3 linked regions of the Homo sapiens genome follow. Each later gene encodes a partner of the first gene's protein in a complex. Each region holds a gene or a part of one and is shown on either strand. Other genes may lie near its edges.

Region 1 (8,526 bases):
AAAGCAAATGGTAGAGTTTACAACCCTGTCCCTATGCCCATGATGGAATTGTTTTTGTGAAAATAAGTTCGAGTGGTCGATTTGTGTACCTTGTGCCCCAAAACTTAATGTATTTTTTCGTTTCACATATAACATAGAGCCATTACCTAGGTTTCTAATTTCTGATTTGCGTATTTTTTTTCAATTGAGAAGTACAGGAGAACTAGTTTTAAGACTTAAAATCCATAATGCAACCAAATTATGGTGTATCTTTTCAAGAAATGACCTGTGTGTTTCTTACTATGTAGTGTTATCTGTAAAGTCCTCAATCACAACTTTAATTTTTTTTTTTAAAATAAGCCTACTGGGCATGCATGCATTTGCAGTGATGGTTTAGAATTTAGAAGTTATTACTATCAATTAGTTTATTTCACAGATATTATACTATTGGAAGACTATAGGAATAGACAAGTAGAATTCCAGATAGTTTATCAGATCTGTGTGTATAATATAGTCAGAGAAGTCTTTGCTTCTTATTATTTAGGTAACACGTGTCCTCTGTTGTTTTTTCTTCTTCTGTGTGTGTGAAAGCCAGCCTCTGATGTGGGAAAGGCTTGAGAGAGATCTCTTTGTCATCAAGCCTTTGCCAGCTCCTATATGATATATGTGGCAGAGTTAGGCTCATTTGAAAACTTAACAAATGTACCAGAAAGAAAACCACCACAACCATATCCCATTTTGATAGCAGTTAAACAGGAAGTCATTAAATAAGACCTGTTTGTTGAAAAATATGTTTTTCTTTTATTAATACATAATATTATACAGATGTATTTGGTACATGTATTTATTTTTTACATGCATAGAATGTGTAATGATCAAGTCCGGGTATTTGGGGTATCCATCACCGTGAGTATTTTGAAAATGTAATTTTAACATCTGCCCTCTAACCAGCCGTGTGCTCTGGATCAAACCATCCAGCCTCTCTTAGAGCCTCAATTTTGGTTTTTCTCTAAAATGGGAATAATAAAACCTATCTCATAGAATTGTTGTGAAGATCAAATGAAATTTTATGTAAAAGTGCTTTTTAAATTGTAAACTGCTATATATATATATATATATACAAAAAATAGAAGATGTAAAATAAATCTATTTACTTTTCGAATGCTCTTTATAGTCCTATAAAAGGACTCCAGTAAATTGCTTCTCCTTTTTTTTCAAGTTTTCTGTGCAGTCCTGACTCATGTGTAAAGAAACCAGGACATTACATTTTGGAAGGTGATTTTGAAAAACCTTTTTTGATCAGCTTTAGAACTACAAAACAAAATTTTAAAGTTTTTCTTCTAACAAGCATTGTATTATATTTTAAATGTAAATTTTGTGCTTATACAGGAAGATATCAAGTCTCTTACTGCCCATATAGTTGAAAACTTTTATAAAGCACTTGAATCGATTGAATATGTTCAGACATTCAAAGGATTGAAGACTAAATATGAGCAAGAAAAAGACAGACAAAATCAGAAACTGAACAGGTATTGTTTAAGTATACTGCTTTTATAGCCTACAAAACTGTGTCCAAAATTGTTTGTAGTTCAGATTTTCCATGTGAAATTTACTGAGGAATTTTCTTTCCATCACTGGATAGCATAGAGTTGAATAGGAGGGTAAGGCGTCCCCCCTACCCCATATCATTTATATGTTGAATTACTACTCCATGTTGTAACTTACGAAGAATATTTAGTTTAATTTACAACATCCTAAAATATTTTGGAGTGTTCTCTGGCTACATCTTCTATCATTACAGAGATTATTTTGATATAAATTATAGTCAGTTAAAATTACTTCAGTTCATCTTGGTTATACATATTTTTCCTTCAGTTCAATCTGATGATGAACTTTAAATCATTACTCAATATTTGTGATATATTTCTTACAGTGTACCATCTATATTGCGTAGTAACAGATTTCGCAGAGATGCAAAAGCCTTGGAAGAGGATGAAGAAATGTGGTTTAATGAAGATGAAGAAGAGGAAGGAAAAGCAGTTGTGGCACCAGTGGAAAAACCTAAGCCAGAAGATGATTTTCCAGATAATTATGAAAAGTTTATGGAGACTAAAAAAGGTATTAAAATTCGGAATTTTTGCACAGTGTACCCTCTTATTTAGTGCAGAAATTATTTTGTTGCTTTGTGAAGGTTTGTTTATAGTTTACAAAGCAAGAAAGACAAAAATTTTATACCAAACTGTGTTCTTTTAAAATTATGTACTTTTTCCAAATCTGTCTGGGAATTCTTTTCATGTTTAAAATGTTTCTCTTCAAACTTGCTATTTTGTAATGCTGTTAATTTGCTAGTTAGAAATTGAATTATCTACTTATACTTTTCTTTCTGTGAATAGTCTTGGCTTTATTTCTATACTGAAATTCTCAGTAATAACAGAGACCATATAGCTTCATAGAAACCTTCTAGAGTACTTTGCCTGTGTCTTTTACAGCTGATAAACTGAGCTCAAACAAGTAACTTTGCTCTTTGAAATTTTAAAATTACAAAAGTTACATAAAGATATACTAACAAGAGAAGTGAAAAAGTAAAACTTCCCCTGGCTTTCAGATGTGCTTAACTTGTTTTATAAAATGAAGATCTTGCTAGTAATATATCTTTCAAAAGAACTAACCATTTTACTTCTGTGGCCTGAGGAATTACCATTTTTTGGAATACTGCCCTGAGTATATCATTTAAATATTTAATTAAAATTTATACCTTGCTGGGCATGGCGGCTCACGTCTGTAATCCCAGCACTTTGGGAGACTGAGGCAGGTGGATCATTTGAGCCCAGGAGTTCCAAACCACCCTGGGTAACATGGTAAAACCCTGTCTCTACAAAAAAACACAAAAATTAAATGGGCACAGTGGCACTTACCTGGAGTCCCAGCTACTAGGAAGGCTGAGGCTGGAGGATCACTTGAGCCCAGGAGGTCGAAGCTGCAGTGAGCCATGAGCTGCCGCTGCACTCCAGCTTAATAACAGAGAAAGACCTTATCTCAAAAACAAAAGAAAAAATTTATGTCTTAGAAGATAAAAGCCTTTCTTGGATTTATTATGTAAGTTTGTGATTTTGAATGTGACATTTTCTAAAGACAATTCTCAGAAAATTAATTTCATTTATTACATTTTCTTTGAAACTATTGTTCGTACTCATTTTCAACTCATTAGTTTGATAAGTTTTATTTGCCTCAGCGTGGCGGAGCAAAAAGCTTATTAAAATATCCTAAGAAATCGGTACCTTTGCTAGACAAATTCTTCTGCCTTTACTCATTACAGGTACTGCCCTGACTATTGTCAAAAGAGGCAGTACAGCCATATTTGAAGTTCTGTATCCAGTGTTGAGTGAGATGCTGTTAAGAATCATATATAAAAATAATAACCAGATGTTAAAAGGGATTGGACACCTATGTCATAACACAAACAGAAAAAGGAACCTGGAATATTTAGGACTTACGGACTTGATCATTGTCTTTAGGCATTTGGAATATTGACTTGTGAGAGAAATTACTAGGTTTTTACCATGAGTAAAGAAGTGTAGAGTCAGTGAGTGGAAGCTACAGGGAGACAATAAAAGGAAGAGTCAGACAGCTAATGAGATTTTAGATGTATGTGCTAGATACCACAATGTAGAGTTCTAGCATAGAATGGCTAATTTTGTTATGATCCGTAAGGTCCTTTCTAATACTGAGATTTCTAAGATTCTAGCTAATAAAGACTTACCACTTGTATTAGTTCGTTTTATACTGTTAAAAAGAACTACCTAAGACTGGGTAGTTTATGAAGAAAAGAGGTTTGATTAACTCACAGTTCTGTAGGCTTAACAGGAAACATGGCTGAAAGGCTTCGAGAACCTTACAGTCATGGTCGAAGGCGAAAGGAAAGCAAGCATATCTTAACCATGGTGGAGCGGGAGACAGAGAGTGTGAAGGAGGAGGTGCCATGCACTTTTGTTTGTTTGTTTGCTTTTTGAGATGGAGTCTCCTTCTCATTGCCCAGGCTGGAGTGCAGTGGCGTGATCTCGGCTCACTGCAACCTCTGCCTCCTGGGCTCAAGCAATTCTCCTGCCTCAGCCTCTCAAGTAGTTGGGATTACAGGCATGTACCACCACACCCAGCTAATTTTTATATTTTTAATAGAGATGGGGTTTCACCATGTTGGCCAGGCTGGTCTTGAACTCCTGGTCTCAGATGATTCACCCACTTTGGCCTCCCAAAGTGCTGGGATTACAGGCATGAGCCACCAAGCCCGGCCGAGGTGCCACACACTTTGAAACAACCAGATCTCGTGAGAACTCACTATCACAAAAATAGCAAGGGGGTTTTCTGCCTCCATGATTCAGTCATCTCCTCCAACACCTGGGGATTACAATTCACAATGAGATTTGGGTGGGGACAAGAGCCAAACCATATCATTCCACCCCGGTCCCTCCCTAATTTCATGTCCTTTTTACATTTCAAAACCAATCATGCCTTCCCAACAGTCCCCCATAACTCATTCCAGCATTAACTCAAAAGTCCAAGTCCAAAGTCTCATATGAGACAAAGTAAATCCCTTCTGCCTGTGATCCTATAAAATAAAAAACAAGTTAGTTACCTCCAAGATACAACGGGGGTACAGACATTGGGTAAATGCTCCCATTCCAAATGGAAGAAATTGGCCAAAACAAAGGGGCTACAGGCCCTGGGCAAGTGCAAAGCCCAGCAGGGCAGTCTTTAAATCTTAAAGCTCCAAAATAATCTCCTTTGACTCCATGTTTCACATCCAGGGCATGCTGATACAACAGGTAGGCTCCCAGGGCCATGGCTGGCTTCGCCCCTATGGCTTTGCCAGGTACAGCCCCCATGGCTGCTTTCATGGGCTAGAGTTGAGTGCCTGTGGCTTTTCCAGGTGCATGGTGCAAGCTGTTGGTAGATCTACTGTTCTGGGGTCTGGAGGATGGTGGCCCTCTTCTCATGGCTCCACTAGGCAGTATCCCAGTGGGGACTCTATGTGGGGGCTCCAACCTCACATTTCCCTTCCGCACTGCCCTAGTAGAGGTTCTTCATAAGAGCTCTGCCCCTGCAGCAGATTTCTGCCTAGATATCCAGGCATTTCTATATGTCTTCTGAAATCTAGGTGGTTTGAGAATCAGAGGTTACCAAACCTCAGTTCTTGCCTCTACCCCACAGGCCCCGTGTCACATGGAAGCCACCAAGAGTTGGGGCTTGCACGCTCTAAAGCCATGGCCCAAGCTGTACCTTGGCTCCTTTTCGCCATGGCTGGAGCTGCAGCACCTGGGATGCAGGGTGTCCCAAGACTGCACAGAGCAGCAGGGCCCTGGGCCCAGCTCACAAAACCATTTTTCCCTCCTAGGCCTCTGGGCCTGTGAATTAACATTTGGCTCCTTGTTACTTATTCAGATTTCTGCAGCCAGCTTGAATTTCTCCCCAGAAAATGGGGTTTTCTTTTCTACTGCATGGTCAGGCTGCAAGTTTTCCAAACTTTATGCTCTGCTCCCTTTTAAATATAAATTCTAATTTCAGACCATCTCTTTCTTCATGCATATGAGCATACGCTTTTAGAAACCGCCAGAAGGCCTCTTTTTTTTTTTTTTTTTTTTTTTTTTTTTTTTTCTGAGATGGAGTCTCTCTCTGTTGCCCAGGCTGGAATGCAGTGGCATGATCTCAGCTCACTGCAACCTCTGCCTCCCAGGTTCAACTGATTGTCCTGCCTCAGCCTCCCAAGTAGCTGGGACTATAGGTGTGTGCCACCACGCCCAGCTAATTTTTGTATTTTTAGTAGAGACAGGGTTTCACCCTGTTGGCCAGGCTGGTCTCCAACTCCTGACTTCGTGATCCGCTTGTCTCAGCCTCCCAAAGTGCTGGTGTTACAGGCATGAGCCACTGTGCCCAGCCCAGGCCACCACTTGAATGCTTTGCTGCTTAGAAATTTCTTCCACCAGATATCCTAAATCATCTCTCTCAAGTTCAAGTTCCACAGATCTCTAGGGCAGGGGCAAAATGCCGCCAGTCTCTTTGCTAAAGCATACCAAGTATGACCTTTACTCCAGTTCCGAATAAGTTCCTCACCTCCATCTGAGACCTCCTCAGCCTGGACTTCATTGTCCATATCACTGTTAGCATTTTGGTCAAAACCAGTCAACAAGTCTTTAGGAAGTTCCAGACTTTCCCATATCTTCCTGTCTTTTTCTAAGCCCTCCAAATTGTTCCAACCTCTGTCTATTACCCAGTTCCAAAGTCGCTTCCACATTTTCAGGTATCTTTTTTTTTGAGATGGAGTCTTATTCTGTCATCCATGCTGGTGGGCAGTGGCACAATCTCAGCTCACTGCATCCTCTGCCTCCAGGGTTCAAGCAATTCTCCTGCCTCAGCCACCAGAGCAGCTGGGATTATAGGTGTGCACCACCACCCCCAGCTAATTTTTGTATTTTTAATAGAGAATAGGTTTCATCATGTTGGCCAGGCTGATCTTGAACTCCTGACCTCAAGTGATCCACCCTCCTCAGCCACCCAAAGTGCTGGGATTACAGGCGTGAGCCACTGCGCCCTGCCATTTTCAGGTATCTTTATAGCAGTACCACATTCCTGTTACCAATTTTCTGTATAGTTCGTTTTCACACTGCTCTAAAGAACTACCTGAGACTGTAATTTATGAAGAAAAGAGGTATAATTGACTTAAAATTCCACATAGCTGGGGAGGCCTCAGGAAACTTGTGGCGGAAGGTGAATGGGAAACAAGGCATGTGTTACATGGCAGCAGGAGAGAGAGAGCAAGGGGGGAAGTGCCACCCTTTGGAACAACCAGATCTCGTGAGAACTCACTATCACAAGAACAGCAAGGGCGAAATCCACCCCCATGATCCAGTCACCTCTCACCAGGTCCCTCCCCTGACATGTGGGGATTACAATTTGATTTGCGATTTGGGTGGGGACACAGAGCCAGACCATATCATCACTGTACACATCATGTTCTTTTTCAAAAGTTCTTAGGAAACAAAGGCAATTAATTTTGGTGTTATTTTTTTTTGTTTTTTTGGTTTTTTTTGAGACGGAGTTTCGCTCTTGTTGCCCAGGCTGGAGTGCAGTGGTGCGATCTCGGCTCACCACAACCTCTGCCTCCCAGGTTCAAGTGATTCTCCTGCCTCAGCCTCCCAAGTAGCTAAGATTATAGACATGCGCCACCACACCCGGCTAATTTTGTATTTTTAGCAGAGACGGGGTTTCTCCATGTTGGTCAGGCTGGTCTTGAACTCCGGCCTTGGGTGATCTGCCTGCCTCAGCCTCCCAAAGTGTTGGGATTACAGGCGTGAGCCACCATGCCCGGGCAGCAATGTTTTATAAGTTTTTTAATTACTGCTGTTTTTAGATGTTTTGACTTAGCAGTATTTATTGATATACGTTCAAAATTTTACTTTTGCTTTAGCAAAAGAAAGTGAAGACAAGGAAAACCTTCCCAAAAGGACATCTCCTGGTGGCTTCAAATTTACTTTCTCCCACTCTGCCAGTGCTGCTAATGGAACAAACAGTAAATCTGTAGTGGCTCAGATACCACCAGCAACTTCTAATGGATCCTCTTCCAAAACCACAAACTTGCCTACGTCAGTAACAGCCACCAAGGTAGGTGAAACAGCATTACACACAAACTTTGCTTTTCCCGTCTGTGAGATTTTTTCATGTTTACTGAAAAAAATTTGGATAATCAAAACAATTTCAATGAATTGTTTAGAATTTTTCTGTTACCAAAATGTTGATTGTAGAATTTTATTTTATTTTATTTTATTTTTTGAGACAGAGTCTCACTCTGTCGCCAGGCTGGAGTGCAGTGGAGTGATCTCAGCTCACTGCAACCTCCGCCTCCCGGGTTCAAGCAGTTCTCCTGCCTCAGTCTCCCAAGTAGCTGGGACTACAGGCGCGTGCCACCACACCCAGCTAATTTTTGTATTTTTAGTAGAGACGAGGTTTCACCATGTTGGCCAGGATGGTCTCGATCTCTTGACCTCATGTTCCGCCCACCTCGGCCTCTCAAAGAGAATTTCATTTTATTTAGGCTTATGATAATAAATGTAAGCATCCTTCCTCCCTGTCCCCCATTCTATTTTGGAGCACTTAAGTTGATTCTAATATTTCACTGACTACTTAGTGTTACTGCATTTTAAATTATTTTCTTGGATAGTTTAGTAGTAGAACGTCTTCACACATACGGTCAAATTCATCTTCATAAAGTCTATGCCAGTTTATGTTACCATAAACTGTGTATGAGTGTGCGTGGCCAATTGCAGCTTTGCCAGTGCTATAATTATTTTTAGTATTTGCCAGTTAGGTAGGGGAGACAGTATATAATATCTCATTTCCAATCGTGTATACTCTATTAGTAGTAAGGCTAAATATTAGCCTTTTGAATCTGCTCTTCTCTGCAAATTGGATTATATTATTGTCGATGAATCTTTAGTTAAGGATATTAGACTTTCTGTTGTTCTTATAACAAATGTATTTCCCTTGGTTACTTTT
Region 2 (7,763 bases), on another chromosome or scaffold:
GATCCAACCTATGGCTGATTCTGCATTGCAGCTGATTAGCAGATCAGCACTCTCACCATGTGAAAGTCTTCCAATAGATGCCATCATTGCCTTGAATCGTCTCTGAACTTGGAGACTGCTGGTGCAAATCTTATCACTTGATCCAGCCGCAATGCCTATCAAAAGGTCACAGCAGTGGCGGAGAACTGATGACTTCTCAAGGGCAATAAAGTTAGGCATATCTTTGAATCTGCTAGCATAAGGAGTACCCCTTTCCTCGTTCTCATTCCCAACCACAGTATTAGACCTCTTGCTCACACCAACACTCAGTAATGCCTGGTGTAACCCATCAAATATGAAACACAAGAATACTAAACTTGGGGTCACAGGGTGGAAATGAGATTTATGTGCTGGGTCTAGCATAGACTTGGCTGCTTTTTTAATGTCCTTAATATCCCCAATGCTGGGTTGGGGTTCCAATGCATCCAGTGGATACTGTCTGTTTTTCCCAGATAGCTCAAATCTTCCTTGAAGGTCAGGGAGCCCACTCCTGTCCATTGCGTCATCTCCTGGGCTGCTGGGCTGTGAGTCCTTTCTTAGATGAGACATTGTGGAAAATTGGTTCCGACTTAATTCTTTAATTTTGTTAAGAATCATAGGTCTAAAAGATCTTTTGTAAGATCTGTCACAGACCCAAACAAAAAGACTGTGAGAATTAACATAAGCATACAATTTAAGAAAATAACCCATTATTAGTCGCTATGACTTGACTCTGCACTTCTTTACCATTTTTCCAAAATACCTCACGTTCATGAGCAAAACAAAACATATTTTGCTTCATAAAAGAAATTTTTATCATGTATACATTTTAATAGTTTTTCTGTCAAGAAATATAGTATGGGATTATTTTAGTATCTTATTTAGCAACATAACTATATTCTTGGGAACATTCTAAAAACAAATTGACTGGGCTGGGTGTGGTGGTTCACATCTGTAATCTCAGCACTTTGGAAGGCCAAGGCGGGAGGATCACTAGAGTTTAAGGCTGCAGTGAGCTATGATCACTCATCACCGCACTCCAGCCTGGGTAACAGAGTAGTCTATGAAAGCAGAGCCAGATTAACCTTAAACCAATGGTTCTCAGCAGGGGACAACCTCCCCTCCCTGCCTTTCACATCTCCAAGAGACATTTGGCAATGTCTAAAGATATTTGGAGAGGGGAACACTACTGGCATAAGTGGGTAGAGGTCAAGGACAGTGCTAAACCTCTTATAATCCCCAGGACACCCACTCACAACAGAATTATCTGGTACAAAATGTCCATAGTTCCAAGGTTGAGAAATTGTATCCAAATTTAATTCTTACTTTGCTATATCTAAATCTTGACAACTGGAAATATTTTCCATCATAAAGAGAAAAGCCATCAAGTAGTTATTCCAAACATGGGAATTATGCCCTAGAGACACCCTGGAAAGGCATCTAGAATGGCATCTCAGGGCAATGAGTGCCACCACAGTATGTAAATCCAACAATATTAAAATTACAGTAAATCACCAATCTCTTTAATCCAAATCTCTTTAATGGAAAAAACATATAGATAATGTTATTAGTAATATTCTACTTTGGGGACTGAATGGTAGGTTCACAAGTATGTTATCACACTTAATTACATATTAAATAAATTCAGTCTATTTTAAGAATAATATATTAGAAGCAATAAAATGATTAAATATAGTAAATAATATACTAGAAATAGAAAAAATATACTTACTCTGAAGAAGGATAAACACAGCTAACAACCATCACATTCTGCAATAACAAAAATCAGTGATTTAGTATGAAGAAAAGTACTACAACATAAAGTTTCATCATTTTTGTTTCTAAAATCACTCTGGTGGGTTAAATTCCCATTGATTCTAATTTTGCTAGTAAAGGAAAATGGTTAAAAATGAAAACTGGTGAAACAGCAAAAACTAAAACAATAACAAAGGACCAAAAGAGAATATCCTACTCAGCCACTAATTTTTTTTTTCCTATACTTATTTTTTACCCTAATCTAGTTATTCTAGACCCGTAACATCATACACTATACGTAGTAGAGTAACTAAGCTCAGATGGAATCAACAAAGATGTTGAGAGATTGAAGTACTTAAGACATATGTAATTGATTTTCCTTACAAAGCAACACCCAATCCACGGCTTGTTGTGTTGCATCATATATCCCACAGAAAGAGACTCAAACCTTTTTTGTAATATATTTATGATCTTCCCAGTAAAAATAACTTTACTAATATTCAGTGTTCACTGAAAGTTTAGTATGAGTCACAGTAAGTGTTTTGCATTTAATCCCCCTCCCAGCCCTATTATTAACCACATTTTACAGAGGAGAAAACTAACTGGCCCAAGGTCACACAACTATGAAACACTGCAACCCTGATTTAAAGGCAGGGCACCTGGTATGACTACTGTAACATATTGCTACTTTATCTGAAAATCTCCAAAATGTAATTATTACAACTCCTGGAGCTGAAAAGTAAGTACTGATGAGCCATCTCAGTTTCCTGGCCTTTGGGGATATTATTCAATTGAGTGTACAGAGGATCAACAAAATATATTAATCCAGTATGGCCACAAAAACTACTGTAAATCACTATGTAATGGTTTTTGATTCCTGTTCCCAGGGTAAAATAAAGTGGATTTGAACCAGATCCTTAAATGAACAGGGGAGTGTTTCCGGACCAACCATCAACTGAAAATTAGAACTCATTAGTCCAATCTTGGTTCTCACAGGGCTTCCTTCATTTTTCACTCAAGACAAGTCAATTTCTTACTTTTCATTCCCTTAAACACCTTGAATCTTTGTTCTTCACACCATTTCCTTTTTTTTTTTTTTTTCTGAGACAGAGTCTCACTTTGTTGCCCAGGCTGGAGTGCAATGGTGCCATCTCAGCTCTCTGCAACCTCCGTCTCCCAGGTTCTAGCAATTCTCCTGCCTCAGCCTCCTGGGTAGCTAGGATTACAGGCGTGCACCACCACGCCCGGCTAGTTTTTGTATTTTTTGCAGAGACAGGGTTTCACCATGTTGGCCAGCCTGGTCTCGAACTCCTGACCGTGATCCACCCACCTCAGCCTCCCAAAGTGCTGGAATTACAGGCATGAGCCACCACACCCAGCCCACACCATTTCCTTTATTCAGAATACCCTTCCCTTATTCTAACACTCCCTCAACCCCCTCCACACACAAACACTAATGTTTATCTCTAAATCTGACCTGCATCTTTCTACTCAATACCTCATTTACATGCTTGGCACCAGTAAGTTTCCAAAGTTATGTACCTTTGAACTCCAGAATTGAGAAAATGAATTCCATGTGTAAGTTTATAAAACACTCTATAAAGTTAAAATAGCAATTATAACTTCACAGAACCTTTAATAAGTTGATATACACTATGAATTTCCAAGAAATAATAAGCTGCTTTCACCAAACTTCAATGACCAACACACAAACCCTCCTCTACCCGGTCCTATTAAATCTCTCTGTAAAACAGAATGCAATTTGGAAAACAATTTGGGAAACTCAAGGTAGGCTGAAAAACATATTTCAAGAAGTGGTACCCGAAACAGATCTTACTCAATGTTCTTTTCTAAAATAAAAGCTATTACACCACAGCATAATATAATTCCAATAATAAAATAAATACCTTTTCTACTCCTCTGAGAAATTTGTCTGTTCCTGTATAGTTTCTCCTTGGATCTGTTAACAATTCACATAGTCGCTGAATAGTAAAAGGGATACTGCAAAAAAATATAATTTTACAGTGTGAGATCACTGATAATCAAGAAAACGAGGAACATTATTTCTTTTGCTAGGTAAAGCTGTATCTAGTCACCCATGTATTAAGCTACAAAAGAAAATGCTATAATAGGGAAATAAATGGATGAGTCATTTAAAAAAAGACAATAAAATAAGCATACCTTTCTATTTAACAAAAAAACCATTCTCCCTTCCTTTAAAAAGCAATAAAGGTGGGGGGGGAGGGAGGGGGGAATGGTTAACGGGTACAAAAATATAGTTAGAATGAATAAGATCTAGTATTTGATAGCACAACAGGTTGACTACAATAATTTATCGTACATTTTAAAATAACTAAGAGTATAAGTGTACTGTTTGTAACACAAAGCATAAAGAAACGCTTGAGGTGATGGATAACCCATTTACCCTGATGTGATTATAATGCATTGTATGGCTCTATCAAAATATCTCATGTACCCCATAAATATGTAAACCTACTATTTACCAACAGAAATTCTTTTTTAAAAAAAAAGCAACTTAGAACACCCAAAATCAACAGAAAGCTTCAAAACTGAGGAAAAAATTTTTATATAATAGAAAATTCTAAATCCTGATAATTTGATTTTTAAGTTTACAAGAGAGGTAACACAAATAATAATCAAGTTGGGGGTTATTTAATATATGTATTTTTCCTCAAGTATTCTTCTGCACTCAAAGGTTTCTTTAAAATGTTCAAACAAAACTACAAATATTTTAAATGTGGTTCTGCTCCATTATTGCAATTTCATATATAATCTAAGTTTAATCCAACTTAAAATATACACAACTTTTATTTAACTTTACCAAATAATTTCACTATACCTCAATTTTTCCTTGACCACAGTAAATACAAAACTGATATAAGTTGGAACTAAAATCATTTTATAAATATTTTTAAGTTTTGAGCTCATGTAGCTATTAGCATTCATAAGAATTACAAGCTGAACAGAACAGCAAAGTTATGAGCACGAGGTACGACAAACGCAGCTAACAAATACAAACAAATCTTCAGACTTCAGTGTCTGCCATACCAATCTATTTATTCTCTTTAATGAAAAGAATTACAAAGCCTCAAATTAATAGTTAACATTCACAAAGGTCTTCATTTTTTATAGGCAGTGTGATACAGAATTTTCTTCCACCACAAGGTATAGTAGTTAGTGAGTTAAAATGCCAGGACTCAAACTCAGTCTCTCTAACTTCAAATCTCATGTCCTTTCCATTGTACCACACGTATTTTACAAAATTATAGTTGTTTATTTTCTAACTGGATAAACTACATTTGGTTCTCATATTCTTTGTGTCAATACTATTCTTATGTTCAAAGTATAAGATGTGCAAAAAATTCTGAAAGTGCTTAAAGTGCATGTTATTCATATGAGAACAAATGTTTTTAGATAAATTTGAGAGTCCAAGAATCAATCTTTTGTCTCAAACCTAAAATCGAATCCAAACCTAAAAGTGAGAAAACTGTTCTACCAAAAGACAAGGCACAGAATAAAAGATTAAATGTTTGCCTGATATTCCAAACATTCAGAAGCAACTAGAAATTCCTCTGGGTTTCTGAGGAAGAATACTTTTTTGCTTTTGAAAATCTACTCAGAGTGAAGTACAATGTCAAAATGAAGAATCCTTTTAAATGGGGAAGTACAAAGCACACCAACAGCGTTACTAAGTATGAAACAATAAGCTTATACATCTTTTGTTTCATTCCTATAAAGACAACCATTAGAAATCTATAGCTAATACACAAAACTAACTCTACTTTAAAAATGTTTAAGCATTTTCCACATGTATAACAAACAGTATTAGTTTCTCAATTGTCTGTCCGTGAAACCCAGTATTATCGTGGATTTCAGATTAGTGGTATAACTCACCTTAGCTCCTCTTCTAGTTCATGGCTCTTCAAACCTTACACACACAACACACCTAAGCTATTTCCTCATTAATCACCCCATAGTGATACTGTCATTAAAATTTATTATTCAAAATATACAAAATAGCACCAACAGTTTGGGTATTCAACAAGTGTTTGGGTATTCAAATAGTACTTAACTGAAAAATACTGTCTAGTCATTATGCTTTTTCTTCCTACTAAAATTCTTTCCCACATTAAAACCTAATGTTTTCTCACTAATTAAAATTAGTTTTAACAGATGAATATTTTAAAACTTCTTGTTTAACAACATGTACACTGAATGCTTTGGCTAATTTTCTTTAGAAATGTAAGTTAAATTGTAGCCAATTATTAATATTTTATGTGTTGTTTAATATTAATACTGCTTTGGGAGGGGGGTATGTGTTTACATAGCAATACCAGCAATGATAAAACGAGTTTAAGTTCTTAGACAATTTCAGAAGCTTTTTTCAAAAGATCCTTATTTCAAAAAGTAAAAGAAGCTTTAAAAGTCATTTTACCAAGTATCCAATAGATGGCACTAAAATGTCACACAACACTTCCTTTTCTCACACGACAGGCTAAATCCCAACCAAACACTTTCTGCAAATCAATGGATCCACTGGAAATATTAGTATGATAAATGAACGTAACAGCATTGAAAGGTCTCTTTACATACAGACTGTACTTTTAAACTTATTCCATAAATATAAGAGCCTATTATAAACTAGAAATACCAACCTTGTTCAACAGCAGTCAAAAGACATGTAAATAATTACAATTACAGTAATAAATAACAACACTGTATAAAAAGTGCCATGGAGACAGAATAAACTGTATGCCAAGCTTAGTAAGCGTGACACTGGGAAAACTTAGTGTGAGGTAGGCCTCTAAAAGGAGGCACAAGAATAAACCAGAAAAACCAGTACAAAATGAAAGCATTTGGTACAAGTATATGAAAGCTCTGCTCTCTGATACTCATCCATTAGACATAGCATACAAAATAGTTTATTCTAACTTCTGAAAATATTAAGGCTTTTCCCACACATACTAAGAAAAGCAAATATAGGGAGAGGAGCGTTAAACACACATGCCACTCATTCTCAATGAAAAGTCTATTCAGAAATCCTTAAATTTGGGGGGAAGTGGTGATCAGATGTTCATTAGCAAAGTTATACTGTAAAATAAAAAACCCTGGGCCAGGCACGGTGGCTCACGCCTGTAATCCCAGGACTTTGGGAAGCCGAAGCAGGCGATCCCCTGAGGTCAGGAGTTCAAGAACCAGCCTGGCCTGTAATCCTAGCTACTCGGGAGGCTGAGGCAAAAGAATTGCTTGAACCTGGGCGGTGGAGGTTGCAAGTTGCAGTGAGTCGAGATTGAGCCACTGCACTCCAGCCTGGGTGATAAGAGTGAGACTGTCTCCAAAAAAAAAAAAGCGTTTGGTTTACTCTGCAATGATATATCATCTGATTTATTCATATTGTAAAATGGAAAACTAAGATGATATAAGGAACTGAAAAAAGGACATGACTAGCTAGCATCTCAAATTTTTTAAAACAGTGCCTACAACATCCAGTAACATTTTTTAAACCCCCCGCCCCACACATTAAGGATCCACCTTTGCTAAATATATATATATATTTTAATACACACACACACACACACACACACACACACACACACACGCTACCCCACTAGGAGACCTTACTCAAAACTGAATTTACCTGAGTCTTCATGGGTCTCATGGGTCTTGTCTGAAAACAAGGGTTCTACAAGTACACTTCAAAGATTATCATGACGACTAAATACGACATAATGTATATGGTATATTAAATCACCTAACAGTGCCTAAAATATTTCAGAAAGTTCAATAAATCTTAGTTCTTATTGTCATCATTCCATCTACTCTTTGATAGAGATTGTGGGAAGGCACACATGGTCCAAAGACCAACAAAACCAAAAGTATAGGTCTGTCTTTAAAAATACTCCCTTTAATTCCAAGGAAAATAACTTACCCTAATTAATAGGACCACACATTTTACCTTATATATCTTA
Region 3 (7,763 bases), on another chromosome or scaffold:
CCATTTCTGTCCTCTCTAACCTCATCTCAGCTTAAATTTACCTATTACTAACAACACCCAGGAGGCATTTTCTATTTTCTAATTAAGAGTTCTTCCTTTTAATTCCCTGCCGTCTTGGGTGCCCTTGCTTTTACTCCACCAATAATTGCAAAGTATTTTTCCTTTTTTTCATATTCTCCTACCTTCCCTTCTCCTCTCCCTCCCCAACATATATAAATTCCCTAAAGATTGTCTTGCTAAACTTTTCATTATCTAAAAAACAGAGTCCAATGCTTCTCATGGAGGCACATTCATTAATATTTGTTAATGAAAATGTAGTCCATAGGGATAATTGATAAGTCAAGAGTTTACTATACTTTATCCTTCTCTAAGATATTCACAAGCACATTAGCATATTAATACCTTGAGAAGTATCACACCAAAGAGAACTTTTTAATTCGTACAAACTTTTATCAAAATTGATCAAAACACCCTTCTATTCTCTACATAATCTCTAATAATGTAACGTAAAACATAAAAAAGCTCATAGTCTATCCTTCCCTTCAGTTTTTCCCTAGATACTGCTCAGGCCACAATAAATCGGCCACATTTTGTTTCCCATCTTTACATTTTAGAAAATGAAAGACAATGAGATACACCACAGAATGAGTTACCTTATAAAGATTTGGGGCTTTAAAATTATATTTTAACAAATAAATATACCAACAAATGAATAGGGAGGAAGATCAGGCTCTTCTATAAAGCAGAATGTCAGCTAGTAAATGCAATTAATTCAGGCAAGAATCATCAACACATTCTAACACTAAATGGGTAAATGTTTGGAAACAGGGTATTTCCCCATTGTCAAACTATTTCCTTACTAATTACAATAGGAAAAACAGAATCTTTACAGTGGAGCAATTTGATAGACATCACCTCCACACTACCAGTAATGGACACTGCTATCAGGTGCTCCTTAATCTGAAGCACTGAGAAAACTACACTATCACTTATGTAGCAGTCCTGTCAAAAAAAAAAAAAAAAAAAAAAAAAAAAAGGAAAGAATAACCTGAATCAAATCATGAGGAAACAGATAAAACCAAATGGACTCTTCAAAAATGTCAATTTCATGAATGCTAAAGGCTGAGAAATTGTTCCAAACTAGTAAGTTTGTAAGTAATGTCCTTACAGCAAAAGACAGTTGCCATAAGGACATTACTGGGGATATTTCAATATGTACTACATACTATATAACAGGATTGTAGCAATGTTAAATTTCCCAAATTTCATTACTATGATTGTAAAAGTGCCCTTGTTCTTAGGAGACACAGGCTAAAGGTCCCAATGACCACAACCTATTTTCAAAGGTACACCAAAAAATTACATTACATTGTGTGTGTGTACATAACTGTATAGAGAAGTAACGAGCAAACTGGCAAAATGTTAACAGCTTAATTCAGGTGAAGAGTTGGGAATTCATTACAATATCTGTGCAGCTTTTGTATAGGTCTGAAAGTTTTCAAAATAACAAGTTTAATTAAAAATAATTTCATTATTTGACCCCAAATTAGGTTTACGGTCTTATTTAGCTTGGTGTGAAACATCAAGATTCATTCAATACTTATTCTACATTAAGCACTGATGAGATGTATTGCTGAACACTGTGTGATGAGTCAAGAATAAAAATGTTACAGACCTTGGATTTTATAGCACAGTGAAGGGGTTGGCCAACTACAGCCAGCGAGCCAAACTGGCCCACCTTCTGTTTTCGTAAATAAAATTTTATTGGATGACACTTACTTTCATTCATTTCTGTATTGTCATGGCTGCTTTTACCTTACAACAGCAGATCTGAGTAGCTGCAACAAAGATCATATGGTCCACAAAACCTAAACTATTTAATATTTGGCCTTTTACAGGGACCATACAACATAATCTTTATAGTCTCCAGCAACAGGTATGTCAAACTTTAATTTTGTACTTTGCAATAATATAAATAATGTTTATCAGAAACCCTTCCTTCAAATATCAATACTAAAAGCTTACTAAATCCTTAGAAATGCAAAATTGTCCTATAGCACAACTGAATTTAAGGCAAGAATAATTTGCTGAAGTATACTATATGTATATTCATATATGTATTTATATTTATATATATACACCATATGTATAATGTATTTCTATTTATATAATACAGTAGTGGCATGTTTATCTAGTTTCAAGTTAGTTACCAAGATTATGTATACAAACAGTATTTAACAGAAAGGTAGTATAACAAAGCACTTGCTCTGACATACACTTGTGGATCTCCCAAATATTATAGATATTTGTTCCCTTCAGTGAGTAAAAATTTTCTTTGCACTCTTAACGCAATTACTTTGGTAGTAACCTTTTTTCCCACAGGTAATCCAAATACAAAATTTGAACTAACTCAGGTCCAAATTGCCACCAATCTTAAATAAATGAAGTATTGAATAAATGAGTTATTTCTATCAAAAATGAATTTCATAGATTTAAATATAAAAGTGATCTACATCAGGCTGGGTGCAGTGGCTCACACCTGTAATTCCAGCACTTTGGGAGGCCAAGACAGGTGGATTGCTTGAGCTCAGGAGCTCAAGGCCAGCCTAGACAACATGGCAAAACCCCATCTCTACCAAAAATACAAAAAAATTAGCCAGGCGTGGTGGTGCAGGCCTGTGGTCCCAGCTACTTGGTAAGCTGAGGTGGGAGGATTACTTGAGTCCGGGAAGCAGACGTTGCAGTGAGCCAAGATAGTGCCATTACACTCCAGCCTGGGCAACAGAGCCAGACCCTGTCTCAAAAAAAAAAAAACAAAAACAGAAACATGGATAAATGAAAGTCAAAACCGAGTAGTAGAGACATGATGGTCCATCTGCCTTTGTATATGTCTTAAGTATCTGTAATATATAACGAACTCTCAAAATTTAATAAGAAAATGTCCCAATGAAAAGATGAGCAAAAGATGTGAAAAGGCACTTCACCAAAGGAGATAAGTTAGATGGCAAATGAGCACATAAAAAGAGTAACATAATTAGCCATTAATGCAAATTCAAGCCACAAATTAATACTATTATACATTTAATAAGAGTGGCTAAAATTAAGACTGCTCACACTAAGTGTTGACAATGATGATGAGGACCTGGAACTCTCATACACTTTTGGTGGGAATGGAAAATGATATAACCACTTTGGAAAACAGTTTGGCAGTTTTTCTTTCTTTCTTTTTTTTTTTTTTTTTTTGGATGGAGTTTCGCTCGTTGCCCAGGCTGGAGTGCAATGATGCAATCTCGGCTCACTGCAACCTCTGCCTCCCAGGTTCAAGTGATTCTCCTGCCTCAGCCTCCCGAGTAGCTAGGATTACAGGCATGCACCACCACGCCCAGCTAATTCTTTGTATTTTTAATAGAGACGGGGTTTCACCATGTTGGCCAGGCTGGTCTTGAACTCCTGATCTCGGGTGATCCACCCGCCTCGTTCTCCCAAAGTGCTGGGATTACAGGCATAAGCCACCGCACCGGGCTGGCAGTTTCTTAAAAAGTTAAACAGCCATTCTACTTCTAGATGTATACCCAAGAGAAAGAACATATATATTCACACAGACTTGTGTGTGAATGTTCATAGCAGCTTTATTTGTAACAGCAAAAAAACTGCAGATGATCCAAAAATCCATCAACATTTTAAAGGTAGAAAGCTGAGAAAAAGTTAACTTGCTCAGATTATAAAGAGAATAAATGGCAGGGCCAGAATATTAACTCAGGTCTAAAGGCTTACCAAGCCCAGTGTTCTTTCCCCTACACAAAACTATACTGAGGTATCTTCCAGAATGACTGCATGATAGATGCTCAAATACCAACCACATTCATATCAATAAGGCCAGAAAGTAAGTTAAGTTTGCTCCTTAGTCTAGGGAGATAAGAAGCTAAGATGACTTAAAAGTTAGGAGAGTTAAGAAATGAATGTGGAGGAAGCAGCATTGATGATGTCACCAGCTCAAAGATCTGTGCTAAAAGCAGAGCAAGTTCCAGACCCTCTTATAGAAATTAGAGGGAATACCTCCTCAGCCAAAATTCCATAGGTGTGCCATCCAGACTTCTGCCCAAAACACTAAGTTAGGTTTATTCTCAGCTCCAATTTAAAAACAACAACACAACTCTAATTCAAATTTAGGAACTTTCAAATTCTTTTACTCCAAAATATAAAAAAAAGATGTAATACAAACATAGGAGCAAGGTAACAATAGTTTAATAAACATACATTCATTGTTTTGAGGAGACTGAGAGAAAAGGACCAGAAATAATAAACCAGAGATCAAACAAATGTGGCAGCAGACTTCTGAACTTTACCTCCTGAGGTCTATTTATCTTTCACAGGCAGGAACAAACAAAAAGTATGCATTTAGGTGTCTTGGTTTTTTATTTTTTGGAGGGGGGAGGGCAGTGGATCGTGTAGCTACAGGCCCAAGCATATTTACAAAGGGGTTTTTCTCTCTGTCTCTCTCTCTCTCTCTTTCAATTTTATGTGGGAAGTTGTTAGCAGAGGTATCATTAATTGATCCAACACACATGTGGGTACCACTGAAACCATTTTAAAAGCACTCTTTTCTAAGATATCAATGATATTATCTCTAAATAAAGATCTCTCCATCCAGGCTTGTTGGCAGCAGTCAAAACAGGCTACCAGGTCTCACGACTCACCCTCCCAAATCCCTATTTAACAATACTCCTAAATATGATTCACGTTCAAGGGCACCTTCCAAAGGTTTCTGAATGATTCCCTGGCCACTACCAGATACAGCCCCAATATTTTGCTCCTCACCTCCCACCGGAAGCAAGGACTCTAAGCTTATCAGAACTGGTTTTGAAACATGGTAGGAAGGCCTGAAGATTCTGCACAGAGTGCGGTCTAGGCGGTTACCCTCAGTTAGTTCTGGACCCATCCTTCACTCTACTTCAACACCGCCCTTAAACCCGAAAAACAGCATAATGTAAAAGGATTCCAAAACTTAAATATGAAAAAAGTCTGTTGTATGGCATACTCAATAACATAGCTTCAAAAACTTTTCAACGTCATACTTAGTTACAGCTGAGATAAAAGTTAACGACTAAATAAGCTGTCTTATACCCAAGCTCCATCCTCTCTATCATTCTCCAGGTGTAAACTAAACCACATGCAGCATCCCAGATTAATTTTCAAGGGTACTTTAAGAACGAGTTCAAAGAAATTGCCTGTACAAGTTTGGGTTGATCAATATTTTAAACTGGGCCATTTAAGAAAATATTCAAAATATGATATTTAGAATCAGAAGGCCTAGCTTAAAATTCCGTCTAAACTTAGGAGTTTTGTTTCTTTAGTCCCTTTGGGCATTAGTCAACTTACTTATTAGTATTAGAATACCACAGCCTACACATCACAGGACTGCTGTGAAGAATAACCTGTGTATGAAAGGCACTGTAAACTAAGCGTTACATAGCCATTCTTTAAAAATAACATTCTTCAACATATTACTTTGATAAAAGCTTAAGTTCTAATGAAACTCCTTCAATGAAATTATTTTTACAAGCATTGGCTCATCAAATCTTAACCGTATCTTAGTCTCATTTCATTTTAGGAATCTACCAACTTAAATGTGAATCAAAATTGCATCTTTGGAAACTAAAACAGAAATCTGAAATAATTTTTTCTAAACATCTACAATTTTGTATTGTCTCCCATTATTTAAGGAACATAATTAAATATAAAAAGTTAAAAAGGGTTTACCCAACTCTGAAATCTGCTGAGATAACCTATGTTCAAATGGAGTCACTGGTTTGCTTTCAATTTGAAATTCAAAGTATTTCATGATACAGTACTGAAAGTTTCACTTTTAAACTTAAATACATATGGTTTTTATTGCATTATTCTCCTAAACTTTTTTTTTTTGAGACGGAGTCTTGCTCTGTCGCCAGGCTGGAGTGCAGTAGCACAATCTTGGCTCACTGCAACCTCTACCTCCTGGGTTCAAGCAACTCCCCTGCCTCAGCCTCCTGAGCAGCTGCGACTACAGGTGCACGCCACCACGCCCAGTTAATTTTTTTTTGTATTTCAGTAGACATTTCACCATGTTGGCCAGGATGGTCTCGATCTCCTGACCTCGTGATCCGCCCACCTCGGCCTCCCAAAGTGCTGGGATTACAGGCATGAGCCACTGCACCCAGCCTATTCTCCTAAATTTAAGAGTACCTGATAATGATTTCATTTACTTACCTTTATAAGTTACTTGATAAAAGTTTAAGTTCTAATGAAACTCCTTCAATGAAATTATGTGTACACACACACACACACACACACACACACAAATACCATCCATTTTTCCCTCATTAGGATTTTTTTTCCTCCAAAGGTTATCAGTCAAGTCAGTCTTTGACCAACCTTTTCCCCGACTCTGTGCCTCTGTACAGAGACGGGATTAAAACAAATCAAATCGAAAGACCTGAGACTCTTAGCAATGTCTGGCAATGCCCCTCTTTCAAGTCCTAGACTCCAGCTAGGTCCTTTCCTAGATCATCTGCACAACAGAACTTACTGTCTCTTCCCTCATAGTCCAGGTTCTGCATTTAGGAAGGTCAACCAAGATTCTAGAGCTTGACCAGAAAACAATTTCTTCCCATCCCAAGGGCCAACTTACACCTAGCTTGGCTGAAGTAGTAGGACTTGTTTACAACTACTCTGGAGGTTGGGCTCCATACTCTGGAGTTTTACCATAGACAGAGAAACTCAGGCTCACGAGATAACAACCGTGTTATAAGGGCAGCCCAAGCTCCGTTCCTCTACCTTTGGGTCCTCTACCTTCTCCAGCTTCTCCAGGATGTGACAGCTGTCTCAGTCCTTTACCAACCATCTTGCTCTCTAAGGAGGCACCATGGCCCAGTGTTCCCCCTCATTCTTTCTCCCTTCACAAGAGATGGGAAGTGGTCCTTCAACTGGCCATATGTCCAAAAGTCCTTTGTTCCTGAATATTCTGGGTAAAGGTATCACCTGTAAAAACTTTAGTAACTGAGAAAAATAAGCAATTACTCTAACAAAGCCTTCAACCAAATTATGAATATGCAAATAACTATTGTGCCTTCAATGTCTGTTTTATCCTAAATTAAAATGCACAGGAAACAGAATCTTTAAAAAGTTAGTTGCAGCCGGGCGCAGTGGCTCACGCCTGTAATCCCAGCACTTTGGGAGGCCAAGGCAGGTGGATCACCTGAGGTCGGGAGTTCGAGACCAGCCTGATCAACATGGAGAAACCCCGTCTCTACTAAAAGTACAAAATTAGCCAGGCGTGGTGGCACACGCCTGTAATCCCAGTTACTTGGGAGGCTGAGGCAGGAGAATCACTTGAACCCGGGAGGCAGAGGTTGCGGTGAGCCGAGATCGCGCCATTTTGCACTCCAGCCTGGGCAACAAGAGTGAAACTCCATCTCAAAAAAAAAAAAAATTTAGTTGCGAGCATTGGCAGCATCTTTAAGTACCTTCATTCTGTAAGGTTCAACATCAGTGTTTCCTTCTCTGCTCTTCTTTTAAGCTTCCCTTGCTCTTTTCTCATAACAGCAAACATAATCATAATCATCGCTGTTTACCAGGAATTGTTCCAAGTGCTTCAGAGGCACTAACTCATGTACAGCCTTGAACAACTCTATGAAGTAGGTAATATTTCTTATGCCTACTTACAAATGACAAAACTGAGGCATAGGGAGGTTAAGTGAGTTGCCCAAGTCTGCCCAAAAAGACAC

Evidence for each region. The genes of interacting proteins can lie anywhere in the genome.
Region 2: PPP4R3B (region 1) and PPP4R2 share a complex: the UniProt entries of both Homo sapiens proteins name them as parts of the PP4 complex.
Region 3: PPP4R3B (region 1) and PPP4R1 share a complex: the UniProt entries of both Homo sapiens proteins name them as parts of the PP4 complex.

Annotation. Positions count from the first base shown.
Region 1 is NC_000002.12:55,557,884-55,566,409, reverse strand, and holds part of PPP4R3B (serine/threonine-protein phosphatase 4 regulatory subunit 3B), read left to right. Parts: intron 1-559; exon of another isoform or gene 560-707; intron 708-1,198; coding exon of another isoform or gene 1,199-1,216; exon of another isoform or gene 1,217-1,254; intron 1,255-1,368; coding exon 1,369-1,508; intron 1,509-1,912; coding exon 1,913-2,097; intron 2,098-7,441; coding exon 7,442-7,635; intron 7,636-8,526. UniProt on the Homo sapiens protein: Regulatory subunit of serine/threonine-protein phosphatase 4 (PP4). May regulate the activity of PPP4C at centrosomal microtubule organizing centers.
Region 2 is NC_000003.12:73,055,048-73,062,810, reverse strand, and holds part of PPP4R2 (serine/threonine-protein phosphatase 4 regulatory subunit 2), read right to left. Parts: intron 3,775-7,763; coding exon 3,681-3,774; intron 1,789-3,680; coding exon 1,751-1,788; intron 1,153-1,750; exon of another isoform or gene 730-1,152; coding exon of another isoform or gene 1-729. Other genes in the region: EBLN2 (endogenous Bornavirus-like nucleoprotein 2), read right to left, coding at 1-729. UniProt on the Homo sapiens protein: Regulatory subunit of serine/threonine-protein phosphatase 4 (PP4). May regulate the activity of PPP4C at centrosomal microtubule organizing centers.
Region 3 is NC_000018.10:9,604,560-9,612,322, forward strand, and holds part of PPP4R1 (serine/threonine-protein phosphatase 4 regulatory subunit 1), read right to left. Parts: intron 1-7,763. UniProt on the Homo sapiens protein: Regulatory subunit of serine/threonine-protein phosphatase 4. May play a role in regulation of cell division in renal glomeruli. The PPP4C-PPP4R1 PP4 complex may play a role in dephosphorylation and regulation of HDAC3.